Linked DNA regions of Homo sapiens: all the other regions are linked to region 1. The links come from fine-mapping of genetic effects on gene expression. A gene starts in region 1. Each other region holds a variant in brackets. All regions are shown on one strand. Distances are from middle to middle. Region 1 holds the start of CHST11 (carbohydrate sulfotransferase 11). Region 2 overlaps CHST11 (carbohydrate sulfotransferase 11). Region 3 overlaps CHST11 (carbohydrate sulfotransferase 11).

What was found. PIP is the estimated chance that this variant, and not a neighbour inherited with it, causes the effect. A credible set is the group of variants that fine-mapping cannot tell apart.
Region 2: its variant is the best candidate, but not a certain one, in a credible set for the expression of CHST11 in transverse colon (GTEx, PIP 0.70).
Region 3: its variant is the best candidate, but not a certain one, in a credible set for the expression of CHST11 in pancreas (GTEx, PIP 0.56).

What each region holds. Positions count from the first base shown.
Region 1 is chr12:104,455,028-104,459,027 of GRCh38, reverse strand. CHST11 (carbohydrate sulfotransferase 11) reads right to left here and starts at 2,080. Exons shown (of 3, transcript NM_018413.6): 1 at 1,499-2,080. The coding sequence starts at 1,616. RefSeq lists silencers at 542-601, 762-901, 1,492-1,771, 1,812-1,981, 2,062-2,191 and enhancers at 1,292-1,341, 2,262-2,341, 2,362-2,411.
Region 2 is chr12:104,657,806-104,662,100 of GRCh38, reverse strand. All of the region lies in intron 2 of CHST11 (carbohydrate sulfotransferase 11), which reads right to left. Among named protein-coding and RNA genes, the nearest start is that of MIR3922, 68 kb to the right of the region's middle. The variant A/G (reference allele first, on the strand shown) is at 2,014.
Region 3 is chr12:104,541,587-104,545,867 of GRCh38, reverse strand. The region is part of intron 1 of CHST11 (carbohydrate sulfotransferase 11); the gene reads right to left. Among named protein-coding and RNA genes, the nearest start is that of MIR3922, 48 kb to the left of the region's middle. The variant A/G (reference allele first, on the strand shown) is at 2,315.

The DNA.
Region 1 (4,000 bases):
GGCAGTGTGGCTGCCTTAACAACTGCTCCAGACCGAGTGGGGCAAAGGGGCCGTCTGTCCCTGCGCTGTCAAGGAATCTGCAGCCTGCAGCCCTGCCTGTTTGATGGAAAGAACAGCTTTATTCCTCTGCCATCGACCCAAACGCAGGCTTGATGAATTCGGGACTGCGTCTGTTTAAAGTGTTAGATACACAGTGAAAGGAGAAGGCGGGAGGCAAAAATGAAAAACACCAACCCCACTTCCCTGGAAGGAAATGCGTTTCCACCTCCCTCCTCCTTGCAATTAGAAAAGCAAATTATTGCTGTGACTACGCTGAGAAAGGCAACTCGGAGGCGTAGAAAATGGATTTCTGAGCCAACGTGGCCCGGCAGGGGGCTGCTAAGGGAGGGTAAAAGGGAGCAGGGGAGCCACGGCTTGGCGGGGAGACCCGCGTTACCCGGAAGGCTTCTCGGAACGTTCTACCTGTTGGGCTTCGCAGCCGAGCTGCTCACCCCCGGCCGCCGCGCTCGAGGGCGCCCCTCCCTCTCCAGAACCCAAACTTTCCCTCGCACCCCTAGGAAGCGACGAGCCTCGTCCCTCCCCCAGTCCAGATTTCGGACGTGGAACTTTGCCTGAGCCACAAGGGACCGGAGGAATGGGGTTCATTCCCACGCCGCCCGGGGGATTCCCGTTGCTCGGATCCCAGAAGTGGGGGATGCAAACGGACGGTCAGCCCAGGACCTGGCCAAAGTTTCCTCCAAAACTGCAGTGGTCAAGGCGTGACCCAGGAGCTCGGAGTTTCCAGCTCAGGGCTGGGGGCTGGAGCAGGCCCCGGGGCACCAGCCGCAAGGTCACTGCGGAGCCGGACCCCGGGGGCAAACGGCCGGCGCGTGGTGGAGGGGCAACGCTGGGCACCCGACCACTCTCCACACCTGCTCAGCTCTGCGCGGAGCCCGGGACACGTGGGAGCCCAGTCCCGGGCTCCCAGCCTGCTGCAGGGACTCGCAACCTCGCCGGGGCGTACACCCTTCGCCCCCGGCCCGGCAACCAGGAAGAGGCGGCTCGCCCGGGCGCAGAGCAGCCGGCTCCGGGTAACTCTTTCATCCTCCGACCTCGGCAGCAGCAGGGAGGGAGTTTCGTTCTCCTCAAACCAGCCCCTCACCCCCGGTTGCTTCCCACACCTCTCCGTTTCCCTGCTACCTCGCAGACAGACAGACAAGGGACACAAAGAAAAAAAGAAGAAGAAAAAAAAAAAAAAAAAAACTACCGCCCCTCCTGGTCCCATCCTCCAGCCCGGAGCCGGTAGGAAGAAGAGGGCGAAGCACACCTTCCCTTCTCCTCCCCATCCCGACGCGGTGACCCGGGTAGATCTGGGCAGCCAGGAGCTCTGGGCAGCCAGGAGCCCCGAAGAGGCCGAAGGCGGAGAGGTAGGGTTGGAAGAGGCAGAAATCAGGCGGAGCGAGCTAGAGCGCGAGAGAGAAGAAAATATCCAACAAAACCACGCTAACGCGCCCCCTACCTGGGTGCAACATACTTTGGAAATAGAAGATGACCAGGATAAAGGATCCCAAGCAAGTGGCCAGCACCATCCGGCAGATTCTGTTCATCCTCATCACTTCCAGCAGCGCTGGCTTCATGGCTTTGTCCTGGCTGCGGGGACCGGGGTGTCCGGGAAGCGCGCCCGGGGCGCAGGAGCAGGGACCCCGCCGCGCGGACCGGAGCCCGGGAGGCGCGGGGCAGAGCTGAGCAAGGCTCAGAGGGAGGATCGGAGTCGCTTCGCGGCCGCTCTCGGAGCCCCCAGCCCGGGCAGGGGTGTGGAAGGTGCCGGAGTTGGTCTGGAAGTGCTGAGATGCGTGGACCCGCTGGCTGCGCGCTCCTGCTCCTCCTCCTCGCCGCTCCGCCGCCTCCTCCGATCCCGCCGGCGGCCGCCGCTGCCTGGTCGCGGGCCGGGCGGCTGGGGTGCGAGCGGTGATGGTGGTGCCGCCGCCGCTGCCGCTGCGCTGGCCGCTGTGGCTGTCCGACGGGCCCTCTCCCTTCTCTCCAAAGGCTACTTCATTGCGCTCCAACGATCTATATATTCCGGGGCTGGGTTTTACCAAATGCAACTCGCGGCCCCCGGCGAGGGGAGGGCGCCTGCGGAGAGCCGGGAGGAGGGAGGGACCCTAGCGCCGGGGCGGAGCGTCGCGCTCCCCCCGCCCCTACCCGGGATATGGTCGCGTCCAGCTGTTGCCCGGGGAGTGCGGTGTGCGCGCCGCGCTCCCGCAGGGTCCCAAAAGCCCTCAGTCCCCGGCCGGGCTCGGCCGCCGTCTGGAGGTTGTGTCAGCGTTTCCATGACAAAACCCGGAGGAAAAAAAGACGAAGAAAATCGCCTCGGTGCTGCCACCCACCCCCGCCAGCGTTTGGAGAGGGAAGTGGCAAGCAGCGGGCTGGGTCTCGGAGGGAAGAATTAAGGGTTAGGGGGTTTCTGGTGGCTGGCAATTATTTAAAATCCCTGGGCGACGTAGCGGGGAAGTTGCCCCAAACCCCCAGGGAGCGAGTGCCCATTTTCCGACGCTCAGAACTGGGCGGTTTCGTTTTTCTTTCAAAGGACAGCCCAGCTTGGGAGTCGGGGTTAAAGAGGGCTGACTTAAAGTCAGGGTTAAGGAAACTGCACGACCCTCGGGTCAGGCGACAGCTGAGCTTTCCCGGGGACTTATACAGACAGAATCTCTGACACCCACCATCACCACCATTCCTCAAGGCAAAAGGGATCTGTGGGTTGCAAAACTCTGCTACCCCAAAGGGTAGAGCATCCTCCAAATTATTCAAAATTAACAGCAGTCTTAGCTGGGAGGGGGTGAGAAAATGCCCCTAGGAAGCCACCTCAACCAAGTCCAGAAAACTGCTGGAAAAGCCAAGCCAGCCATAGCACTGGCAGGTACATGGAAAGATGGTGCTGCTTTCTTGTATTGTGTAGAATGACTTCCAGTTTCCAATTCCATGCATTTAGGCTGTTTCACAATCAATAAAGTGGACACAGCCAATAGTGTAGGGATCACTCGTATGTCAGGGAAAAAAAAAATGTTAGTTAGACTAACCTTTGTGCCTTATCAAGTCATTACTAATTCAATTAAAAATGAAATAAGATACTGTGTCTTTCAATGCCTCTCACAAAATAGGCATTTGATAAATTCTTATTGAATCTGAATGTAATGGGCCTTATCCTCCCCTCGATAGACAGAGACACAACTTGCAGTTAGACACATGCAACAAAAACCACCTGGGCAACCTCAGTTCCCTTCCCCCAGAGTTCTCCTCCAGCAGTTGCATGGTGGGGAAAGTAACAAACTCAGCAGCCTTGCCTTTGATTACAGAAGACAATCAAAGCACAATATTTATGTAGCCGGTGTGCGCTGTATTAATTTGGACTTACCTGTGAATAAGTTGCTTGCTCAAGGAAGCCAGGCTGAACAAGCTTCAGACAGAGTCGTTCTCCAGTGATTCTTCTGCTCTGGTGATAGGAGATCAGGAATGGGAGTTGCACTGCACCCTCCCCACCTCCCCACCATCATCACTAAGAAAGGGGATTCCTTGCAGAGGGCATGGCTTAGATGGGCATTTGCACAAAGCCTTTGCCTGGAATATAAGTCTCTCATTTAACACTTGGCTTTACAGAGCCAGGGAGGGGAAGGGATTTACTCCCAGGTCACCCAAGTGACCTCTCACCTCATAGGCCAAAGACTTCAGTTACCTGCCCCAAAGCCTGGACATGCACAAGGCAGTTTGGGAAGTCACAGGGTCAAGGAAGAGATCAGAAGTCCAATTCCCTGTGAGTCACAGAGATCATGGAGTTGGCCCACATGGTGGGGGAGGATGGTGAATCATGCCCAACATCCATTCTTGCATTCCCACAATCAGGAACCTGCCCAAACACAGTGAGGATTAAGGCTGTGACACATAAGCTACCACCTCTCCCAAGAAGTCTTTGCTGTTTTCTCACCTGAAATTGCAACTTTCCTCCTCTGCGCTGTGAGCACTAGGT
Region 2 (4,295 bases), 200 kb before region 1:
GTATCCTTGACTTTAATCTTGTGGCCATCAGAGTTTATATTTCTATTAAAAATGATTTCCTGCTCTCCTTCACCTCCACCCAGATGGAGCTCACTGATTCATCTCAGACTGAGAAACGAGGCTCAGGATGTTTAATTAAAAGTAACATCTTCTTTTTGCCAAGATTCCATGTTCTAATCCTGACACAAATAGAAAGAACAGGTGTTTTCTGAAAAGCAAGGAGGTGGAAACACTAGTCATCTCCAACTTCCAGAATACTTTATCCAAATTTTGTTGTGGAAGAGACCCCATCACTGGGTATGGTTAAACTGGGGTGAAAATCATGTGGCTGCTAGGAAACCAGGCATCCCGGGTCCTGGTCAAAGACAGGAGCACCTTCACCACTACTGCTGTGTATCAGGAGGCAGAGGAGAGTGAGACAGAAAAACTAGCACTCAGGACCCAGGAGAGAAGGGGCTCTCTTGCTTCCTAAATGTCTACCACATGCTAAGCGCTGTTTGCTGCTTTTTAAAATGTGCAGCGATGGTGCCACTGCACTCTGTTGCCCAGGCTGGAGTTCAGCAGCGCCATCATAGCTCACTCAAAGCCCACCTCAACCTCCCAAGCTAAGTGATCTTCTCACCTCGGCCTCCCAAGCTGCTGGGACTACAGGTGCATACCACCACATCCAGCTAATTTTTTGTATTATTATTATTAGTAGTAGTAGTAGTAGTAGAGATGGGGTATTACCATATTGCCCAGGCTGGTCTTGAACTCCTGGGCTTAAGGAGGTGGAAACACTAGTAATCTCCAGCGATCTACCCGCCTCGCCCTTCCAAAGTGCTAGGATTACAGGTGTGAGCCACTGTGCCTGGCCTGTTTGCTGCTTTTTACATATTGTCTCATTTAACCCCACTGACAAATGAGGCAAGAGCTACTCCTTCCGTTTTTATGGATGAGGAAACTGAGTCTCGGAGAAGTTGTCACTTGCTCAGAGACACAGAACTCAGGCGAAGCTATGTCAGGATTTGGGCACAGGTGAATCGCTCTTCTCATAGATTCAGCTACATCACCCTTCCCAGGCTCATGGCAGTCTGGAAGTGGACAGAGTGGATCGAGCTGAGGATGTGGTCATCTAGGCTCATTTCTCTTGCATGCTGAGCCCTCAATAGCAGCAGAGATGTCACAGAAGGATGAGAACCACAGAAACCCCAAATGTAAGTAGTTTAGACTAAGACCCCTTTGAACTCCAGCATCCTTTAACTATAACTCCTTCCCTGTATTGCTCCACCCAGTGGCCTCAAATCTTGGGATTGATCAAGATTGCAGGTGGAGCTAGACTCAGTTTTCATAAATGTAAGGTCAAAGAGGAATGGCAGATACGCACCCCTTTACAAGAGCTGGGTTTCGGATTTTCTTCTGAGAAGAAGGGGGTGTGAAAAAGGGCCTGGGATAGAAGGAGTACACTTCTATCTTCACAAGGCTCCTGTGAGCAGCCAAGTCCAGGAGAGGACCTCAGCCGGGATGGAAATTTCCTTCGGGTCTTTCTCTCCTGCTGTTTGCACACAGTGTTCTCTTTCACGGGCCTCCTCTGGCCTATGAAATGAGCTTTCATGTCCTCCATACAAAGTTGGTTTCTCTAATGTGCTGAAAATAGAAGAAACTACCATAGCCATGTTTTCCCTTGGGCTGAAGAGCAAGACGGTGGCTCTGCCATCAAACCCAGCCATTCAGCTGGGGGCCCACCTGCGCCAAGCCCGTGGGCAATGGCAATGCCGCAGAGACCCAGTGAGCTAAAAACCCAGCCTGTAGCCCTTTCCCTGAGCTTTGGGAACGAAAGACTTTCCTCTGGTCCTGGCGTGGTACCCAGGAGACCTTTCTGGGGCTAAGAACAGAGCATCTGTACAATCAAAACAGCATCAACAAGTATTTTCTGAGCATCTACTGTAAAGCCAGGATCTGGGCTAGGTGCTGGGATACAGCGATAAGCAAAACAGATGTGGTCCCTGGAGCGTCTCATTTCTAGTCTAGCCC[A/G]GTACAGTCCAATAGAAGTATAATGTGAGCTACATATTTAATTTTAAGCTTTCCAATAGCCACAATTTTAAGAAGTAAAAGAATGAAATTAATTCGTTTTCTTTTAGAGACAGGGTCTCACTCTGTTGCCCAGGCTGGAGTGCGGCAGTGCCATCATAGCTCACTGTAACCTCAAACTCTTGGGCTCAAGCAATCCTCCCACCTCAGCCTCCCTAGTAGCTAGGACTACAGGGGCACGCCACCATACCCAGCTAATTTTTAAAAATTATTTGTAGAGATGGTGGGGGCGGGGGGGGGTCTCACTATGTTGCCCAGGCTGGTCTCGAACTTCTGGCCTCAAGCAATCCTTCTGCCTTGGCCTCCCAAAGCACTGGAATTACAGGCATGAACCACTGTGCCTGGCCATAATTAATGTTAATAATATATCTTTATTTAACCCAACATACCTAAAACATTTTCATTTCAACATAAAATCAATATAAAAATTATTCATGAGATCATTTACATTTTTTGGTACTTATTCTTCAAAATATGGTATGTATTTAACCCTTACAGCATGTCTCAATTCACACTCGCCACATTTCAAGTGCTCAGCAGCCATTTGGAGCTCAGGGCTACCACCCTGAGCAGCACAGCTCTGCACTGTGGGGATGGAGGATCGGGGCAGTGATGGCTCTTGGAGATCCCCGGAAGCTCTTAGAGATACGGAGAAGTAATATTATCACCAACGATCATATGTCTTGAGCAATTATCATGTGCCAGCCCCTCAAGGAATCCTCCCTAAACAACCCTAAGAGACTGTCACCCCACTTTGCAGATGAGGAAAGTGAGGCACAGAGAGGCTACATCACTTGCCCAAAGTCACACAGCTAGTCAATGCAGAGTCTGTGATGCAGAACACAGAGCTGTGCTCTTATCCATGGCATCATCCCAGTTCTTGAGCACGGATCCAGACACATCACATGTTAGAACCCATTCCTCTGAGCCCCTCCAATGGTGCTCTTTTTTGATGGAGATCAAGTGAGAGAACGTTTTGGGAGCCCTTGGTAAGATGTGAAGGGCTTCAAGTGGAATATTACGCCTATTAAGTGAAGTAGAAGTGGTTTATAAAGTATCCTCTGCAGCCAGACTGCCTGGGTTCAAATCCCAGCTTCACCACTTACTAGCAGCGTGCCCTTGGGCAAGTTACTAAATCTCTCTGTGCCTCAGTTCCCTTGTTTATACAATGAGAACGGCAATAGAGCCTATTTCAAGGGTCATCATGAGGATTACATGAGTTAATAAAAATAAAATGCCTAGCACTTTGCTTGGCACCTAAGAAGCAACTACTAAGGAGTAGTTATCATTATTATGGAGCGAACAGGGTACAGATGCGGGGGTTATTGGATGAGAGAGTCTGGGAGGAGGAGAATGGAAGCAGAAGGTAGGAGAAAAGCCAATCATCAAGGCGCTAGGAAGTGCCAGAGTTACGGTCCCCAGGGCTACCTCCCCCTCTCCAGATAAACACCATGGAATGTAAGGTACACGCTGTCATGAATTAACTGTGTCTCTCCAAAATGCACATGCTGAGGTACTAACCCCCAGTCGTTCAGACAGTACCCTTATTTGGAGATAGTGTCTGCACAGAGGTGATCAAGTGAAAATGAGGTCCTTAGGGTGGGGTCCCAATCTAATGTGTCTGGTATCATGACAAGAGGGGGAAATTTGCACAGAGACACAAGGAGACTGCTGTGTGAACATGAAGGTGCATCTACCAGCCAAGGAGACAGGCCTGGGACAGCCCCTTCTCTCATGGCCTGAGAAGAAACCAACCCTGACCACACCTTGATCTTAGACTCCCAGCCTCCAGAAGTGTGAGAAAATAAATTGCTATTTAAGTCCCTCGGCCTCTGGTACTTTGTCATGGCAATGATTGCAGACGCTCATCCTGCCTCCTCTCCTCACCAAGAGGCACTGCAGGTTGGGGGCGGCATAGGGGGCTCTAAGCCAGCCCCCGCCCCAGTCCACACAGCATGCTTGTAAAACTCTGAGTATCCTTGGCTGGCTGGCCTCGGCGGGTCTGTTGCAGTGGAAAACTACCCAGGAAGGTGGGCTGCGTCCCTGAACACTGCTCACTCTGTTTCCCCTGCTACCTTCAAAATCCCCCTCCGTCAACTGAAGGGGAAATAAAGCGTGTCTTTATTCGGGTCCAGGCTGCCTTGGACACCCTGCTCCAGCTTGAGCCAAGGCAGACACAGATGCTTATTGAGCAAGGTTCTCCCTATGTTCCCGACACACCACAC
Region 3 (4,281 bases), 87 kb before region 1:
GGTGACAAAGTGAGATGCTGCTTTTAAAAAAAGAGAGACAGAGAGCAAGAGAGAGAGAGACCCTAGAGAGTTCTCCAGCCATCCTCAACCATGTGAGGCTATGGTGAGAAGTTAGCCATCTGCAAACCCAGAAGAGAGCCTCACTAACAACCAACTAGCTGCCACCTGGATCCCAGAGTTTCAGCTTCCAGACTGTGAAAAACAAGTTTCTATTGTTTATAAGAAACGTGCCTTTGTTTGTTACAGCAGCCTGAGCTGACCAAGGCATCATCTTTATGGAACCTGGTACAGTGATAGTAAGATTAAGTAGCTCAATATCATTTGTTCTATATTTAAGCCAAGGCTTCTAGATATTCCATCAATCAGCCAAGCATGTGCCCACCTGAGAGACAAGGACTGTTATTTTCAAAAACCTGACCAAGAACAATTTATTTTCCTCCATCAGAACACAGTCCACATCCATTCTCCTGGACAGGCTCCACAAGGGAAGGCCGAAATGATTGATCAAGTCCATGGGTCACAACACCTGATGTCAATAAAGCCCAACATGTGGCCAGCTCTGCAGAAGCCCTGAGGCAGCTCATGGGGCTGGGCCCTGCCCTCCCCACCCTCAAACGGGCCATTCCCTGATGGTCCTTAAACCTCTGAGTGTGGAGGAACATGACAGAGAATTTAAGAAGGCAATGAATGGATTGATTTTTTTGCTTTTCAATTTGTAACGAAATTCACCTTGGGTCTTTGTCTCCCTTTTACTCTGCAGGGTAATAATAGGGCTGCTCAGACAGGATTTGTGCCTGGCTCCAGGGGATTCTTGCCATCCACAGGGACAAGCCCAACAAAAAGGAATGCTGGCCATTCCTGCATGCCTCCCTCTTCTCAGAACAAGGACGCTGCCCTGTGGACCTAATAAACCCACCCATTTTTCAGCTGCAGGACAAAACAATGGCATACTTCGAAACGACATAATTGCTGTGGCAAGGCCAACATCCACCCTATATAAATTTACTGCAGTAATTCAGAGGGAAGCGAAAATGACTTTAGTATTATTTTGAAAAATCAAAAAGAAAGCACCAAATCCATTATCTCCGGGGTGGGGGGACTGTGACCCCCAGGGCACATCATTGACTGCTCAAATTTCTGATTTCTTTTTTTTTTTTTTTTTAGACCAAGTCTCCCTCTGTCACCCAGGCTGGAGTGCAGTGGCACGATCTCAGCTCACTGCAACCTCCGCCTCCCAGGTTCAACTGATTCTCCTGCATCAGCCTCCTGAGTAGCTGGAATGACAGGTGTCTGCCATGACACCCAGCTAATTTTTGTATTTTTAGTAGAGACACAGTTTCACCATGTTGGCCAGGCTGGTCTCGAACTCCTGGCCTCAGGTGATCCCCCCGCCAAAGTGCTGGGATTACAGGTGTAAGCCACCGTGCCCGGCCCAAATTTCTGATTTCTACAATGGCAAAATACATTTTCTCCCTTATCCTCCTCTCTCCCTATCAATCCACCAATTTTTTAATTTTGACATGGGATACAGTCTCCATAGTTTACATTTTCTCAGTTATCCTTAACTATGCTCATTATTTTCTAAGAAATTAGCCTAGACAGTATAGTTGACCAATACTTTCTTTAGAGCCAGAAGGTTCTCATCAAAAATTCTATGTATGAGCGTTAATTAGTTCTTTTCAGGTCTTTCTTTCTTTCTTTCTTTCTTTCTTTCTTTCTTTCTTTCTTTTTTTTTTTTTTTTAACAGACAGGGTCTCTCTCTGTTGCCCAGGCTGGAGTGCAGTGATTCAACCATAGCTCACTGCAGCCTCAAACTCCTGGGCTCCAGCCATCCTCCCGCCTCAGCCTCCCGAGTAGCCAGGACTACAGGTGTATGCCACCAGGCTCGGCTAATTTTTTAAAATTTTTTGCATAGATGGGGATCTTGCTATGTTGCCCAGGCTAGTCTTGAATTCCTAGGATCCTCCCGCCTTGGCCTCCCGAGTAGCTGGGACTATAGGTGCATACCTCCATGCCCTGCTTCAGATACATCTTTAGCAGTGCCCCAAAAAAGTAAAGGGAAAAATATAATAATCAGCTCCTTGACTGGAAGGAATCTGTTAGTTACCGGGGCAGGGGAGATGGGTAAGGGAAGAGGCAGGAAGAGGTGAAAAAAAGTATACAGTGACTTCAGTGACTGTCGTCAGGTCTCATGATGCCACTGATAGATAAAGTACATCAGGCAGGATCCAACCAAATGCATTAATTTCCCTCAACTTATACTCCTGGACTCCTGTAAGACTCTGAGCCGAGTCCAGGGACGAGAAGGATGGGA[A/G]GGGGTTGGGGGAAAACACCACATTTCTCTGCAAAACAGTTTAAAAGCATAAAAAGCTAGAAGAGACCACTAGTCTCCTCCCCTATCAGGAGCAAATGGAAACACAAAATATGACATGTTGCCAAAAATGCCTGTCCTGCTAATGTAAAAACTAAGCCTGGAAAAATACTGCATGACACAGTTTGGATGGTTTGTCCCCTCCAAATCTCATGTTGAAATGTGACGTCTAATGTTGGGCGTGGGCCTAGGGGGAGGTGTTTGCGTCATGGAGGCTGATACCTCAAGAATGGCTTGGTGCTATCCTCTTGGTAATGAGTGAGTTCTCACACTGTGAGTTTACATGGGATCTGGTTGTTTAAAAGACCCTGGCACCTCCTCCCCCTCTCTCTTGCTCACTCTCTCACCATGTGACACCCCGGCTCCCCTTCACCTTCTGCCATGACTGGAAGCTTCCTGAGGCCTCACCTGAAGCTCAGCAGATGCTGGTGCCATGCTTGTACAGCCTGCAGAACTGTAAGCCAATCAAACTTCTTTCCTCTATAAATTGCCCAGCCTCAGGTATCCCTTTATAGCAACACAAATGGACTAACACACTGGTTGCCACTGTCCCCTGTCAACACCCCTTCGGCATGAGGATGGTTCAGAGATTTAATTTAATCATCAACTACTCTTTAGGGTAACAACCCTTGGGGGTCCTAAAATGTCCTAAATGGGAACTTACATCTCCCTTTACCACCTTCACTGCCACTGGATCTAAAGGGTTAATGTTTTGAAGAGGTAACGAAGCCACATGGTATGAAAACCAAAAGGCACTAAAAGGTTTATACAGTGAAAAATAGGTCTTCCCCACTATCCCCACTCTACCCAGGCAACAACTGTCTACTCATTAGTATTTCTAAAACACACACTATGTGCTGGACACTGGGGCTCCAGGTCCTAGACTATTTTGCATAATCACTGATACCAGTTTCATGTGTGTCTCTCCCAAAATACCCTGTGCTTTTTACATTGTTATGAAATTGGATCACACAGTATTTGTCCTTCTGTGTCTGGCTGATTTCACTTAGTATCATGTCTTCAAGGTTCACCCATGTTGTAGCATGTGTCAAAATTTTCTTTCATTTTAAGCCTGAATGAATAGCTGTCCATTGTATGTTTATATTACATTTGGTTTATCCATTCATCCCTCGATGGACACGTGAGTTGTTTTCACCTTTTGGCTATTGTGAATAATGCCGCTATGAACATAGCTGTACAAATATCCATTCAAGTCCCTGCTTTCAGTTCTTTTGGGTATATATCCAAGAAGTAGAATTCTGGACCACATGATAATTCTACGTTTAATTTTTGGGGGAACTGCCATACCATTTCCCACAGTGGCTAAATTGGATTATTTCTAAAATGTTAGCATATCCTCCACAATGTTCAACACTACATTTAGAAGCATGCCTCACTCTTCTCAATTGAGGAAAGATGAAGTTAGTTGCTTATCATAACTTGGTCCTACACATCCAAGATGTTAAAAATGAAATAGTGGACATGAAAGTTGCTAGAAAGTAAAATGCAGGGGTATTATCATTCAGTTATTACCTCTGGTATAGCAACTGGTAGCTGACAGTCTTTCTGAGACGGAGTCTCGCTCTGTCTCTCAGGCTGGAGTGCAGTGGCGCAATCTCAGCTCACTGCAACCTCCGCCTCCTGGGTTCAAGCAATTTTCCCTGTCTCAGCCTCCCGAGTATCTGGGATTACAGGCACCTGCCTCCGTGCCTAACTAATAACCATCTTTACTCCTAAGACACTTCTTTCCCCTCCAGATTAGCTGACCTGAAGTTATTTGCACTGCCCTTTTTCTCATTTGTTTTCCCAATTTCCCCATGAGATGGAGCAAAGCAAGAGAGTCTCTAAAATTCAGACAAATTCATTCAAAGTAAATATCCTATGCCCAACAGGGGGATTTGAAAGAAAGA